2 separate regions of the Homo sapiens genome follow, and region 1 is linked to region 2. Evidence: fine-mapped expression QTL. Tissue or cell type: whole blood. Region 2 holds a variant in brackets; the other region holds the start of a gene. All regions are shown on one strand. Distances are from middle to middle.

Region 1 (8,085 bases), 75 kb after region 2:
GGTAGGCTGAGGCAGGAGAATCACTTGAACCCGGGAGGCGGAGGTTGCAGTGAGCTGAGATCACGCCAGCGCAATCCAGCTTGGGCGACAGGGCAAGACCCTGTCTCAAAAAAAAAAAAGGAAAGAAAAACTGCACAAAGTCCAAGGTAGAGTGAGAAGGCCAGCAGCTATGTGTACTGCTGCGCCTTTACCTTCCACCACGCTGCTCCAGCTGGCTACCAGGTCAACACCAGAGCCCTCTGGGGAGAGAAAACAGGAGGGCTTCTACCTGGGCTGTTCCCAGAGCTAGGATTACCTGCTCCTGGGAGCCACAGAGAAAGTTCCACAGCAAGTTCCTTTCTAGCCCCTGCCACACCTGAATTTGTAAAAGCCTCTTCACAATTAAAAACTAAAAATAGGCCGGGCACGGTTGGTCACGCCTGTAATCCCAGCACTTTGGGAGGCCGAGGTGGGCAGATCACAAAGTCAGGAGATCGAAACCATCCTGGCTAACACGAAAAATCGCACCACTGCACTCCAGCCTGGACAACAGAGCAAGACTCCGTCTCAAAAAAAAAAAAAAGAAATTAAAAATAAAAGCCCTCTCCACAAGTTGCAATTGGCAAACTATATAACCACAGCATCGAGGAATACAAAACTCTGGCTTCTGGGTGATAGAGTTGTCCACATGAGAGTTTGTCCATAACCAGTATATTTCTCTGGTTACACAATCAAGTTCTTCAAGCCACCTTCCTCAAGCTCACTACCCAAAACCACAGAGAGCACGGAGCTGCCGTGCCTTAGAAAAGTCCATCCACTATACTGCCCCATGGGCAAGATTAAATTCGAAAGTAGCCAAGCTGGCTGGGAGCAGTGGCTCATGCCTGTAGTCCCAGCACTTTTAGAGGCTGAGAAGGACGGATCACTGGAGGTCAGGAGTTCAAGACCAGCCTGGCCAACATGGCAAAACCCTGTCTCTACTAAAAATACAAAAATTAGCCGGGTGTGGTGGCACGTGCCTGTAGTCCCAGCTACTCGGGAGGCTGAGGCAGGAGAATCGCTTGAACCCGGGAGGCAGAAGCTGCAGTGAGCCGGGATCGCGCCACCTCAATGAAGCCTGGGCAGCAGAGTGAAACTCCATCTCAAAAAAAAAAAAAAAAAAGAAAGAAAGAAAGAAAGAAAGTGGCCAAGCCACTTAAATTACCAGACAGCTTTTTGAGAAAAATCCAAGTTTGAATCACCCCAAAATATAATCCAGCCAGCCAAGTTGCTCTGGATGGCTTGGAAAAGTTCTTCTAGGAAGCCCCTCCTGGCTGGTCAACACACTGCCCTACACAGCTGGGCTCCGAGCCAGAGGAGTTTAACAGTCCACAGTTACCTTCACCCTAACATGAGGAAGATCCAGCTTAGAGAGGGGATGTAACCAATACCCTAAAGTAAAAATAGCAGTGTGACAGCATGAGGTGGACACACAGGCGGACCTTCTGGACTGAAAAGCAAGCGAGGGCAGCATCAGAGAGAAGGCGGAGCTCCTGGTTCCTAAAGCACAGAAGACAGTGGTGACCAGGTACCAAGTCCATCGTAGTTATATGACTCACGAGCTCTCCCCCAGCTGTTTCTAGGAAAGCCTGCCTTCCTGCAGGACAAGTCAGAATCGCTCAGGGAAAAAGACCCAGGGCCAGAATTCTACCAGGAAGAGAGGCTCTGGCTGGTCATGGGCCAGCAGCTGCTGTCGCTGCCACTGTCTCCTCCTCACCTGCAGGGGCGCCTTAGCCTCATCTTGGGGAGTCTTTTTGACAAGGTGCGAACTTGCTCTTTCAAAAAAAAATGAAATCCTCATTCCATGAAGGGGAAAACTGCGACACCGGGACAGGGAGGAAATTGCCCAAAGACATGGGAAGAAGCACGGAAGGGGTGGGCACCGGGAGAGTGGTGGAAACGAAACAGGGGGAAGAAATTCTCGGCTTAGCTAATGGAGCTGAACAAGTTCGGGGCAGGAAGAAAGCCACATTCCTTCCTAGTTAGTCTCCCTCCTCCCCCGCCCGCGGCACCCCCCCACCCCCACCATCAACAGTATACACAAACACACACACACGCAGGGAGCAGGGCTCTCTGAGCCCGAGACTAGACCCACCCCCACTCCCTTTAGGGCAATGAAGCCCCCAATTTCCAGAAAAGGAGTTACAAGGTTCCTAAACCACTTCCCCTCGGGACCTGACCACTGGTCATCTGCAACTTCTGACCCAGCACAGACGGGGGGAGGGGGGGCCATGACACAAACAGAAATGAAAAAGGCAGGTTTCTGACCACGGCCCCAGATGCGCCCCAAAGTCAGGCCCAAGAGAACATACACAGCAGCCTCCCCTCCCCACCACCAGCCAGGTGGCAGAACCGAAACGCCTCAAACTTCCCCCAGATGGGCCCAAATCGGCCTCTGAGAAGTTCCAGAGTCAGCGGCCAGATGTGGTAGCCAGAGCTTCCTCCTGGGTGGCAGGGATCCCCTACATGTGCCCTGAGGATAACATCACAGCCGCCCCCAACACTTCCACTCTCCAAGGAACCTCTCTCCGGAGAGAGAGGGTCACCTGGGGGTAAGGGGAGCAGAAAGCTGGGACAAGCTGTCAGTTTCTGCCCAAACTCCCCGTCCCAAGAACCAAAGTGGCCCAACCTGAGTGGCTTCATCGGAACGCGTCAAAGCCAGCCCCCAGCTGCAAAGCCTTCCACCCAGACAGAACAGACCCCCACAAGTGCCTCGCTGACCACCCCCTGCCGGGCACCCAGACGATCGCTGCTTCCCAGGAGGACAGACACAGTCACCCCCACCAACGGCGCTGCCCCGGCCCCAGATGGAAAAGCCCCCAGCTTCCCCCTATCACGGTGCCGGGACCGTGCGGCCCACCGCCTCCTCGCCCCGCCGCCAGGTGCGCAAACTGGACCCTGCCCAGGTGCCCAGCAGGCCAGAAAGGCCCCGGACGCCGCCAGGTGCCGACACCGACGCCCCCCGGGCCCGGCGCGCGAGTCTGGGCCCCTCAGCAGCCCCGGGCCACCCGCCTGTATTGCCTCCTAGTGCTGAGAAGGAACGCGGTTCTCAGCGCTCCAGGCCGGACTGGCGCCCACTCCGCGCCCCGCCGGCCCAGGGACCCGCGAGCAGCACCACAGACCTAGCGTCTCCGAGCCCGGACGCCTCAGTGAGGGGAGCGCGAGGCCGGCCCGCGTCCGGACGTTCCCCACTGGCGCGCCGGGCGCCATGCCACTCACCTGTCTGGCGCGGTAGCTCTCGAAGGCCCTCAGGGCACTGTCGGTGAGCTTCACGTGGAACACCGACACCTTGCTGCCGTCGCTAACCCGCCCGCACGACAGCCCGTAGCTCCTATCCTCCTTCAGCGCCGCCATCTTGCGACCATCTCTCCCCCGCGCCCCCTTCCCGGCTCCAGCGCCGCCACGCCGGCCACGCCCCGCCCCGCCGCCCGCTGACGCGCTGCATTATTCATGAGACGCGGCTGGCCACGCCCCCCGAGTCCGACCAAACCAACAGTCGCCGCCACACCGGCAGGCAGCGCACTACATTATTCAGGAGACGCGCCTGGCCACGCCCCATGAGGGCCCCACAAGGCCCACAGTCAACGCCCCAAGTTGTTGCATATTCATAAGGCACTTATGGCCCCGCCTCTTCAGGCCCTAGGGGTGGCCACTTCCGTGAACGAACTCCGCCTCAACACGCGCACCCCTCCAGGCCCCGCCTCCATAGTATTATACATAACCCTGACTCAGCCAGCCAGGCGCGTCAAAGCCCCGCCCCTACAGCCGCTGACGTGATGCATTATTTATGAGATCTCTACAGTCTTCCGTCTTTGGCTTCTGTGGAAAGCCGCAGAGAGGGCGTGGAGGGGCGGAGCCGGCTCGAAACACGTGGGTGGGTAGGCCCCGCCGCGGGCCGGGAGGGTGGGCGTGGCTATGTAAACGGAGCGCGCGCGTTGGACGCTGGGTTGGACACATAAGGCATCCCTTAGGCGGGGTGGATGGGACTTCCACCCAGGGAAGGTGCTGGACCGGTAGGTGGAAGAGGAGCTGGTAAACTTTTTCTTATGAGATGAGTACTTTTAATAGGATAAAATCCTACATCCCCACAGTCCCTGAGCGATGGTGCAGTCCAGCTTCATTTTCCTATTTTAATTTTTTTTTGAGGGGTCTTGCTGTGTTGCCCAGGCTGGAGTGCAATGGCGCCATCATGGCTCACTGCACCCTCGACCTCCTGAACTCAAACTGATCCTCCTTGTCTGGGTCTGCTGAAATGCTAGGATTACAGGAGTGAGCCACCAAGCCCAGACTTCCATTTTCTTTTCTTTTCTTTTTTTTTTTTTTTGAGACGGAGTCTTGCTCATCAGCCCAGACTGGAGAACAGTGGCGCTATCTCGGCTCAATGCAACCATCGTCTCCTGAATTCAAGCGATTCTCCTGTCTCAGCCTCTCGAGTAGCTGGGATTACAGGCGCCCGCCATCATGCCCAGCTAATTTTTGTATTTTAGTAGAGATGGGGTTTCACCATGTTGACCAGGCTGGTCTTGAACTCCTGACCTCAGGTGATCCGCGCGCCTCGCCCTCCCAAAGTGCTAGGATTACAGGCGTGAGCCACCTCCCCCAGTTTTTGTTTGTTTGTTTGTTTTTAGACAGAGTTTCGATTTCCTTGCCCAGGCTGGAGTGCAGTGGTGTGATCTCGGCTCACTGCAACCACCGCCTCCTGGATTCAAGCAATTCTCCTGCCTCAGCCTCCCGAGTAGTAGCTGGGACTGCAGGCGCCCATCACAACGCCCAGCTAATTTTTTGTATTTTTAGTAGAGACGGGATTTCACCATGTTAGTCAGGCTGGTCTGGAACTCCTGACCTCAAGTGATGCACCCACCTCGGCCTCCCAAAGTGCTGGGATTACAAGCATGAGCCACTGTGCCCGGCCAGCCTTCCATTTTCTAAAAAGCAACTTCATTGAGTCACATTTTACATATAAAATATATTCCCAATGCTGTGTAGCTGTCACCACTATCTAATTTCCGAGATTTTTTTTTCTTTTTCTTTGAGACAGAGTTTCACTCTTGTTGCCCAACCTGGAGTGCAACGGTGCCATCTCAGCTCGTTGCAACCTCCGCCTCCCAGGTTCAAGCGATTCTCCTGCCTCAGCCTCCCGAGTAGCTGGGATTACAGATGCCCACCACCACGCCCAGCTAATTTTTGTATTTTCAGTAGAGACGGGGTTTCACCATATTGATCAGGTCTCTAACTCCCAACCTCAGGTGATCCGCCTGCCTAGGGCTACCAAAGTGCTGGGACTACAGGCGTGAGCCACTGCGCCTGGCCAAGGGAGGAGCTGGCTTGGAGGGCCAACCAGCTCGCTCTGTGATCTTGTGAAAGGCACCTCCTGCTTCTGAGCCTCTGTGGATTCACTTCGGAAACAGGAAACAGCAATAAGAGCAGTACTCAGGACCTAGCAAGGTGTCTCACACCTGAAATCCCAGCATTTTGGGATGCCATGACGGGAGGATCGCTTGCACCCAAGGGCTTGAGACCAGCCTGGGTAACAGGGCTAAGCCCCCTCTCTACAAAAAAATTTAAAAAATTAAAAAAATTAGCCGGGCATGGTGGAGCACCCCTGTGGTCCCAGCTACTCCGGAGGCTGACATGGGAGGCTCTCTCAAGCCCATGGGAGGTTGAGGCTGTAGTGAACTATGTTCGCACCACTATATTCCAGCACTCCAGCCTGAGTGACAGAGTAAGACCCTGTCTCCAAAAAAAAAAAAAAAAAAAAAAAAAAAAAGCCAGGCCCCCAGTGGCTCACGCCTGTAATCCCAGCACTTTTGAAGGCCGAGGGGGCTGGATCATGAGGTCAGGAGTTCGAGACCACCACGACCAACATGGTGAAACCCCGTCTCTGCTAAAAACACTAAAATTAGCCAGGCATGGTGGCACACGCCTGTAATCCCAGCTACTCAGAAGGCTGAGGCAGGAGAATAGCTTGGACCCAGGAAGCAGAGCTTGCAGTGAGCCGAGATCGTGCCACTGCACTCCAGCCTGGGTGACAGAGCAAGACTCGGTCCCAAAAAAAAAAAGTATTTCTCCACGTCTACTTTACATTTGATTCCCCAGTGGATCTCAATGAGACCCCAGGAAAAATAAGGCAGAACTTATCAGACGTTGGCATGCTCTGCAGAAGTTTCTTTTTTTTTTTTTTTTTTGAGACGGAGTCTCACTCTGTCGCCCAGGCTGGAGTGCAGTGGCACAATCTCGGGTTCACTGCAGCCTCCGCCTCCTGGGTCCAAGCGATTCTCCTGCCTCAGCCGCCCGAGTAGCTCGGGTTACAGGCACGTGCCACCACGCCTGGCTAATTTTTTGTATATTTAGTAGACGGGGTTTCACCGTGTTAGCCAGGATGGTCTCGATCTCCTGACCTCATGATCCGATGATCCGCCTGCCTCAGCCTCCCAAAGTGCTGGGATTACAGGCGTGAGCCACCATGCCTGGCCTTTTTTTTTTTTTTTTTTTTTGGAGACAAGTTCTCACTCTGTCACCCAGGCTGGAGTGCAGTGGCATGATCTCGGCTCACTGCAGCCTCCAACTCCTGGGCTCAACCCATCCTCCCACCTCAGCCTCCCAAGTAGCTGAAATTACAGGCATGCTCCACCATACTGGGCCAATCTTTTGTATTTTTTGAAGAGATGAGATTTTTCCATGTTGCCCAGGCTGGTCTCTAACTCCTGGGTTCAAAAGATCCTGTCGCCTAGCCTCCCAAAGTGCTAGGAAGTGCTAGGATTATAGGCCATAAGCCACTGCACCTGGCCGTCTGCAGACATTTTTGTTTCTTTGTTTTGAGACGGAGTTTTGCTCTTGTTGCCCAGGCTGGAGTGCAGTGGCACGATCTCGGCTCACTGCAACCTCTGCCTCCTGGTTCAAGTGATTCTCCTGCCTCAGCCTCCTGAGTAGCTGGGATTACAGGCACACGCCACCACACCCAGCTAATTTTGTATTTTTAGTAGAGACGGGATTTCACCATGTAGGTCTCGAACTCCTGACCTCAAGTGATCCACCCGCCTCGGCCTCCCAAAGTGGTGGGATTACAGGCGTGAGCCACCGTGTCCGGCTTTGTCTGCAGAAATTTTTAAGAACTAGGTTACCCATGGCCAGGCATGGTGGCTCACGCCTGTAATCTCAGCACTTTGGGAGGCCGAGGCGGGTGGATCACTTGAGGTCAGGAGATCGAAACCATCCTGGCTAACACAGTGAAACCCCGTCTCTACTAAAAATACAAAAAAATTAGCCAGGCATTGTGGCAGGCGCCTGTAGGCCCAGCTACTCCGGAGGCTGAGGCAGGAGAATGGCGTGAACCTGGGAGGCGGAGTTTGCAGTGAGCCGAGATCGCGCCACTGCACTCCAGCCTGGGTGACACAGCGAGACTCCATCTCAAAAAAAAAAAAAAAGGAACTAGGTCACCCACAATATTGCAAGTGAGTTGATCACCCTGGGGTGCCCCCCGGACACATAGTCCACCTGGTGAGCTCTCTGATGGAAGCAGTGACCCCACCCTGCCCCTTACCCCGTGTGTGGTCTTGGACACATCTTGCCATCTCTGTTCCTCAGTTTGCTCATCCAGAAAACAGGGAGTGTAACAGCATCTACCTGATTCTTCTGTGACAATGACATGAGACAAGGACATGTGTAGCTCGCCCTGTTCAAGTGTTCCAGAATTGTGAGCTCGCGTACACATACAAAATTCCTTCCGCAGTGCTCACTTCCAATTCACAGCCCATGGCAAGTCGGGTAAGGCCCTCCTGAGTCACTGCTCAAGGCCAGGTATATGGGAGGTGTTAGTAAATGCTTTGGTATGAAAGACAAAGCCATCCCCGTCGTTCTCCAAAGGTACCACACATGGTCCAGCTGGCATACCTTGCACAGCTATGCCATCCACAAGGGATACCCTTCACCACCCATTAAAGGCATCCCATGCCTTCAACACAACTGCAGCGTCACACGTGCTGGATGCTCCAGCTCACCACCCACAACCAGCTCAGACCTTTGAGGATGAAGTGGCCGAGTGAATAACCACATTCAATTTCACACTCC
Region 2 (8,092 bases):
AGCCCCTCCCTGAGTGCAAACCTTGGCGGTGGCTCTGCTAAGACGACCCCAGGACCCACAAGTGGACAGAGGGACGGAGGGAGGCCAGCAGCATCGAGACCACAAGGTCTCAACAGTGTGGAATGAGCAGCAGCAGCAACAAATGGGAAACCGAGGACATCGCAAAGAAAAGTCTGACGCCGCTGCGGCCGAGTCTCAACTTGGAGCACAGAAACACAGTGGCCCCCGACAGCTGAGGGCCTGAAATAGCAGGGCAGGCCTGGGGGCGCTGAAAGCCCTCTGCCCCCTTGGCTCTGAGCAGCTGTCTGGGGGCACCAGCTGGAGTTCTCAAAATAGCCACCTGGGCCACCCTGTTTGCTTGCTGGAGCAGAGACCCTGCCCAAGGAGGAGAGGCTGGGGAAAGGGGTGCCTAAACGTAGAGCCAGAGACCAGCAGAGGCCACCTGCCCATTCCCCACGCCCTCAGAACGCAGCTGCACCTTTCGACGACCTCTGTAATACTGCAGGCAGGACCCAGGGCAGCGGCTAGACCCTGGGTGTCCGAGGAGAGGGAGGCACAGGTTTAGAAAAAAGATTTTGCTTCTCTTTTGTACAAAAATAGACTCAAGTCTCATTAGCAGTAGCTAAAAGTGGCTGTCTTTGTATAAAACTAGAAAAGGCAGGCGCGCCACCCCAAGGGCCTAGGAGTCTTCTGGCGAGACAGGAGGCTGAACCCCGGAGGCTGCAGCCAGGGAGGAGGCAGTGGGCTTCCTGGGGAGCCCATCATAAGCAGGGACTGCTCAGGAAGCGCAGGGAGGGCCGAGGTGGGCTTGCAGCCACCCGCCAGGGCCAGACGTCTGCAGGGGCTGCCCTGAAAGCCGGCGGTGCTGGCTCAGATGAGCATCTTCCTCGGGTTTATTTTTTTAAATAAATCCTCTCTCACCGCCTTTTGCTCCCCCGACCCTCCCAGATCCCCGCCATCGGGGAGGGCGGCTAGGGCCAAGCCTGCAGCTGCCGCTGGTCGTACTCGGCGATGAGCCTCTTGATGTGGGCCAGCTTGCTGTGCAGGTACTCGCAGCGGTGCTTCTCCTGGCTGTAGTTGGTGTTGGTCTGTGGGACAGCACAGTCATGCTCAGGACAGAGCCGCCCTGGGTGCTGCTCCCCGCTGTAAGCAGGCCAGTGTCCCCCCCAAACCAAAAACCTGGGCTTGGTGCCCAGCAAGGAGGGTTGTGGTCCAAGGGCAGAGTGGGAGTTGGTCCCCCGCACCTCCACAGCTTGTGTGGCTGGGCCAGGATGCCACAGCTGAAGACTTAGCTGGGGGTGGTGGGGCAACTTTGGCCTCAGACTCAAAGGCTCTTCCCCCACACCTTGGAAGTAGCGGGCAGGGAGGCTGCCCCGGGCCCACCCTCCTCCCTCCAGCTCCCATGGCTCACTTGGAGCCCACCCCAACACAAGAGACACTCACCTTTTTGATTTTTCGATATTCCTGCAAAATCTGCCCTCGAGTAGTCTAGAAGAAAAACAAAATTTTGAGAAAACAGAATGTGTCCCCGCCTACAGGAAACCCAAATTGAGTGGTCCCAGGTGCTCTGAGAAGGGGGCATGGGAGGGTGGGGCAGCCTCAAGGACAAGGCCAAGTAACACCCCAGGGGCCCACAGCGGCTGTAGCTCCGGAGTGGGTGGGGCATGAGGGAAAGGCTGCCGGGTCCCCTGGAGGCAATAGCAGGTGGGGCACTGCTGTTGTGGGGGCGTGGCAGGACAAGGAAGTATCCATGTCGTGGGGGGGTGGGGAGGGGGTGGGGGGGTGCAGCAAAGAGGGAGGGAAGGGGAAGGAGAGATGCCCCAAGAACCCGTGGCTCGCAGCCCCTAGAACCCCATCATGAGTCGTCGTCTTTGGAAGGCAAAGGGGCCTTGGCCAGGAGAGACCCCGGCATCTGATTAATCAGGGCCCAGCCCTGTAGTCAGGTCACCAGTTCCGAAAGGTGGCAGGTGGGGCGGCTACGTCCAAGGCTAGGCTAAGGGTGGAGACTCTCTGTATACACAGGGCAGCTGAATGAGCTGTGAGCTCAAGCCAGGGGACCACAGGAGTCCTGATTCCCAGGACCACAGGGACCTGTCACCTCCCCCTGCTATAGTTGTGGCAGCATGGATGGGCCCCAGGGTGCTGGACAGAGCTCAGCTGCGGAGTCTCCTGAGGGTTTGGCACAGGTACCAAGAGCCCTGTGTCCTAGGCTGTGAGAGGACCCCAGGCGCTCAAACATGTGGGGATCCATGTACCCCGGCTCGCCCCCATCCAAGGAGGTGGGTCACAGCTGTCCCCACTGCAAAGGAGGCTGACAAGCTGGGCTGCCTTCAAGGACTCCCACAACAGGACCCCAGGGCCGGGCCAGAACCATGGGGTTGCTGCATGGAGTGCACCAGGGGGAGAAGCGCTGCCTGGGGAAGGGCCAGACTCTGGGGCCACCAAGCTCGTGGTGGCGATGGTGCGCGCCCAAGTGGGCCCTGGCTCCCGCCAGAGCCAGGGCACAGTAGGCAGCGGGGGGGCTCTACCTCATACTCCTCGGAGCCCTGGGAGAGCTGCCGGAGCTGGGCGTCGAGCTGGGTGAACCGCCGCGTGATGCGCTCAATGCGGGCGTGCAGGTCGCGGTACTCGCTGTACTCGGCATTGAAGTCGTTCTTGTAGCTCTGGCGCTGCTCCGAAGAGGAGATGGCTGCGTACTTCCTGAAACAGGAGAGAGGGGCCACTGAGTGGAGGCTGGAAGGACCCAGCCCCACCCAGGAAGTGGCCATCCTGGCTCCACCGGCGGCCTGGCCTCTCGGGTGATTCCCTGGATTATGAGGGGGCCTGGCCCAGAAGAGGCTGCTATGTTTGGAATTCACATACTCAGACTTGCAGTGGCTTCTACCTCTGATAACCTGCAGTGCTGGGGGAGGGGGTCTGAACCCAGAAAAGGGAGGCCTGGCCTGCAGGGCCCAGACAAACACTCACAGCAAGTAGTCAGGCGTCTCCGACGTGGACGTGGGAACACTGGAAACGCTGCAGGTTCCGTTTAAACCTACGAGAGCAAACACATACCTCCTGAGTCTGCGCCCATGGCACCGGTCGGCAGGAAGCACGCCAGGATGGGGACATGCATGAAAACTGTACACTTTGCTGCTGGAGGGACATAGAGGGATAGCAGAGGGGATGACTGTGTGGCAGGTGCAAGGGCTGAGCCCCTCGCACCTGGCAACTGTGGGCTGCTGGACCTGGGCGTGCCCTCCAGGTGGTGAGCAGAGCTCAGCGTGCACCTGCGTGTCCAGGGCAAAGCCCTGCAGGACACAGAGCACCCAGGCATCACCACAGTCACATTCTTGGCAAACAGCGGACAGGTCAGGGAACTGCAGGGCCAAAGCCTGCACAACCGGTCAGAGCTTCCCCCAGGCCAGGCCCTTGCTGCCTCCACTGACTGCATGTCAAAGGTCACTAAGCTGAAAACAAATGACCCCTGGCTTGACCTGAGTCTCTGGGGCATCCCAGTCTCTGGCCAGACAGGACAAAGACAAGATGGCCAGCAGGGCCTGCATCTCTTGCTGCTGACAAAGTTCCACGCCCTTGGTCTGTGCCCCACCCAGATCATCCCGTCCTTTCCACTAGACACTGAATTGCACGCTCCACAAGGCAGCTCCAGGACAGGGCCAGCCAGAGGAGCCCATGGGCCACCCCAATCGGCCATCCATGAGCAAAGTGTCCATGATGACGCTCAGCCCTTCGCCCCTTCAGGGGCCTGCCCAAAGCAGCACAGCTGATGGCTAGATGGCACCCCAGGCAGCTGTCCTGCTCCTGAGCCATGTGGTGGGGTGCCCCGGCCACATAAGACAACACCCCTGAGGGTCTGGAAATCAGGGAGGGGAGGGGCAGGAAGACTGAAGTGCGCGTCGCCTAAGACCACAACTACAATTTAGTGCGTTTTCTAGACCTTCTTGCAGTGGCTTTCTTTCCGATACAGAAATGATTTTATCAATTTCAGATGTATCCTCAATACACTTTTTTTTTTTTTTTAGAGACAGGGTCTTGCTCTGCCACCCAGGCTGGAGTTGCAATGGTGCGATCATGGCTCACTACAACCTTGAACTCCTGGGCTCAAGTGATCCTCTTGCCTCAGCCTCCCAAGTAGGTGAGACTACAGGCATATGCCACCATGCCCAGCTAATTACAAAATTTTTTTGTAGAGATGGGGTCTCACTGTGTTGCCCAGGCTGGTCTGAAACTCCTGACCTCAAGCAATCCTCCTGAACTGGCCTTTCAAAGCGTTGGGATTAAAGGCATGAACCACCACACCTGGCGAATTTTTTTTTTTTTTTTTTACTTTTTAGTAGAGATGAGGAGGCTTGCCTATATCGCCTAGGCTGGTCTTGAACTCCTGGACTTAAGTGATCCTCTTGACTTGGCCTCTCAACATGCTGGGATTATAGGCGGAACCACTGTGCCTGGCCCTAGTGCACATTTTCAGGGGCCCTCTGCACTATCCCCTGAGAGAGC[AG/A]GAGTCTGCGATCTCCAGTTTGCTGAGCCCTCTCTCTCAGTGTAACACACCTGGGCTGACCACAGCAGCTTCTCTGCTGCCAAATTCCCAAAAGTGGACGAAGCTCACTCCCCACAAAGTTTCTAACACTCCCCACTTTGGGCCAGACACTGTCTTCCATATCACCACCACCCCCACCTGGGTTGTCTTTAAGAGGCTGTGGCCTTCCCAGGGACGCAACTCAATGGGCATGTATTGAATGGGTCTGACCCTGGTCCGGGCCAGAAGGAAGTGAGAGGCAAGGCGCAGCTGCGAAGGCCAAGCCCATGCTCCCGCCACGCAGTGGACTCCGTGGGTATTCTACAACAGATAACTGCCATGTGTCAGGCTGGTCAACATTACCTCATTTGACATGCCCCAAGATCTTCACCAGCTAGGATGACAAACGGGGAAATCAAGGCTCAGGGTCAGCTCAACCTGGTACCAGTGGGACCTTCAAAGTCCAGCCCTTGGCAAACCTCAGCGGCCCCCGACTCCTACTCAAGCTCTGGCTGTGTGGGGCCGGCCAAGCTGGTCCCTGCTTCGGGGCCCCGGAGAACACCCCCACAGCAGCTCCTCTCCCCATCTCTCCCCTTCACAGCCCACGTCTCTCTACTTGCTTGTCCTGGGCACGGGCACAGGACAGCTAAGACATGCCCTGCACAAGTACCACCTTCAGGACTCTGGTAACATGGACCACCAGCACCAGGCTCAGCTTCTGGTGCCTCCACTGTCCTTTTCTTGGTGCTTGGGACATCTACCCCTGCTTTGCATTTTCTCACCTGTGGTAGAGATGACAGCCCCTGGGCCGGGGATGAACTGCCTAGGGGCCAACACGCACCAGGCCAGACAGGAAACCACCTTGAGTCCCCAGGCCTGTCTTGGCACCTAGGCACTGGGCATCCAAGGAAGGGACACAGCCCAGAGTGGTCTGTGGACCCTGGAGCCGGGCCAAGGGTCTCAAATGGCAGATCCTGCCATTTGATCGTGGCCCAGGTCTGGCTGTGGGGTGTGGGTGTGTCCTGGGAATCAGGAGTCCTGCCCTGAGCATGGCCCTGGTCAGAGAGGCTGCCCAGGGAGTAAGGCCACCTTCTCCCCGTCGGCCCCCACATGCAGTCCCACGGGAGGTGGGAAGCCCAGCACGAGGCAGGGCTGACCCAACCCCGAAAGTCTTCCTTCCTATCCAGTAAGACCCAGCCACAGTTGTGAGGACCTGCTCTCCAGCCACAGCAGGGGACGGGGCATGGCCCTCTGAGCAACGCAAAGCTATAATGAAAGAAGGGCTCCCACCCTCATCCCAGGAATCCCCTGACTCAGCCTCCTCCCCAGAGACACAACCCAAAAGCACAGCAGGTGACACCACCTGGGCTGCCCTGGGCCAGCTGGCGCCGAGAGCGAAGTGGCCATCTGCAACTGGCCGCCATCGCCACATGGGACCACTGCAGCCCCTGTCGCACATGGTGGTGGAACAGCCGCTGCACGCTGGCCACTGCTTCTGCTGGTTCCTATAAATGAACAGCTGCGCAGGCTCATGGCCACGGTGCTAGGCGGGTGCTACTGCTGCTCAGTTTAGGTGCCTGGGCTGTGGTCTCGGAGCCGCCCAGGTCTCCTGGCTCCCCAATCCCAGCCTGCCAGGCCCTGTCCCCACAGCAGAAACCTACAGTCCACAACAGTCGCACGGTGCCTACAGAGGTCCAGGTGCTATCCCTCTCCCACCAGGATCTGCCCATCTGCACCTGTGCTGCCTCTCCCTGAATAGGGCTGGCTTGCCTGGGCCCCCACTGTCTTCCCTGAACCCCAGCAGACCTCAGCATGGCCCTGGCTCCTGGGGCTTCCCTGCAGTCAGAGCTGGGGCCTGGGCCCCATTCCTCTCTGCATGTTAGCCCCTTCTGCGGCCTCAGTTCCCCACAAGGCTCTGGGCCTCCGGCCCCCAGTGCTGGCCTGGCACATTGACTGCAAGTGGCACCGGGCACTCCAGACAGGCAGGGAGAGGACCAGGTGCAGGAACATAGGGTGCCAGGTGCCAGGCACACAGGGCAAATCTGATGGGGCCTGGGGCAACAGGGTCCCCTCCCCTGGCTTCTACAGCTTGAGCCCCCTCGACACCCCATGAGGGTGAGGCGGGTGTGGGGCCAGTACTTAGAGCCCCGGCAACGCCCTCCTGCCTGGGCACCTACCTGGGGTGTCTGCTGGGGCTCCGGGGGTGGCATGGGTGGCAGGTGCACAGTCTGGAAGCTGGGCCCGGGGCTTGTCCTCAGCCGCCCTCTCCTTGTCTTTGTGCTTCTTGGACTTCTTCTTGGGCTTGCTGCGCGAGGGGCTGCCGTGTGGCCTGCTGGGCTGGGCACAGTCCGTCAGCAGGGGCAGGCCGAGGCGCACAGTGGGGGCTGGGGCAGCCGCCTCTCCGTGCTCACAGTCTCGGCCGCTGTGGCCCAGGTCATTGCTGACATCGGCCAGGGGGTCGTGGGCCCTCGGGGGCTCCAGCCGCGGGGGCAGGTGAGTGCTGGAGCTGAGGGTGTCCGTGCTGGCTGGTGGGCCCGGGGTGGGCAGCAAGGCCTCACGGCCATTGGGCACGCCCAGCTTCCCGTTGACGGCAGGCTGAGCTCTCTGAGTGAAGTGCGATATCCGGGGTTTCTTGTTGGCTAGGGGGTCGATGAAATCAGGAGGCTGCAGCCGCTTCTGGAGAGGAGCAGAGATCATTTTAGAGGGGAGCACAGAGTGGCTGAGCAGCAACAGGCAATCCCCTGGCCTGGCTAGAAAACCCAACGCCGCCTGCAAGGCCCACGCTGGCCACATGGGGGCGCCCGAGCACCAAGTCAGGTCCCAGGTGCCGCTCAGGGTGGCCTCAGCTGGGGCCCATCAGCCTGCTGGGATCGATGCAGGGGGAGGGCAGGGCCCAGTGTGTGAGCGGGCCACCCCTGGGGACTGGTCTAAAGCGCTGCTGTGCTCAGCATGCTTCCCCAGTGATAACTGTGACACAGGAGCAGGAAGCCCAGGGTTGAGCCCACATCAGGGAGCCGCCCCCCGTCCCAGGTTCCGCACTGTGACACTGGGGTGCTGCGGCCACACTGGCAGGAATCTGCCCCCAACCCCAACCCGACAGCTTCCCCCTTGGTCCCTGGGCGGAGGGAGGCGGCTCAACTTGGAGCAGCTCATGCTCCAAAGAGCTGGTGAGGAAGGTGACAAGGGTTACTGATGCAGCACAGAGTGCCCTGCAGGTGCTTGGGACAGTCACCCCAGGCATGCCTCACTTACCTGTGGGGGCGAGGCCGAGCGCCCACGCTCGCCTGGGGGGCTGGAGGCAGCAGGGTCTCCAAGGAGGCTGCCAGTGCTCTGTGGCTGGCACAGCTTCCTGCGAAGGAGAGGCAGGGCTAGGTCAGAAGGTGCTGAGGGGGCCTAGGGGCCCCAGGCCTGTATCCACATGGGGGCCCGGTGGAGATGCCTCAAGGAAGGGACCCCCCTCCTCCCAAATCCAGAGCAGGGCCAAGGGGTCACAGGAGCCTGGGCCTGAGGCCATCCTGCCCCCGACTTCACCCAAAGGAGGACTTCCCCACTCACTGTCCCCCTGAGCCCAGA

What was found. PIP is the estimated chance that this variant, and not a neighbour inherited with it, causes the effect.
Region 1: it holds the start of ELL, and the variant in region 2 is fine-mapped to the expression of ELL in whole blood (TOPMed, PIP above 0.99).

The regions. Positions count from the first base shown.
Region 1 is chr19:18,518,684-18,526,768 of GRCh38, forward strand. It overlaps ELL (elongation factor for RNA polymerase II), which reads right to left and starts at 3,387. Exons shown (of 12, transcript NM_006532.4): 1 at 3,238-3,387. The coding sequence starts at 3,372. RefSeq lists silencers at 2,071-2,120, 2,851-3,160 and enhancers at 2,376-2,891, 2,892-3,407, 3,551-3,880.
Region 2 is chr19:18,443,781-18,451,872 of GRCh38, forward strand. It overlaps ELL (elongation factor for RNA polymerase II), which reads right to left. Exons shown (of 12, transcript NM_006532.4): 7 at 7,772-7,868; 8 at 6,697-7,195; 9 at 2,968-3,034; 10 at 2,529-2,700; 11 at 1,444-1,488; 12 at 1-1,088. The coding sequence ends at 972. Among named protein-coding and RNA genes, the nearest start is that of ISYNA1, 9.7 kb to the left of the region's middle. RefSeq lists enhancers at 2,541-3,069, 6,416-7,222, 7,223-8,029. The variant AG/A (reference allele first, on the strand shown) is at 4,501.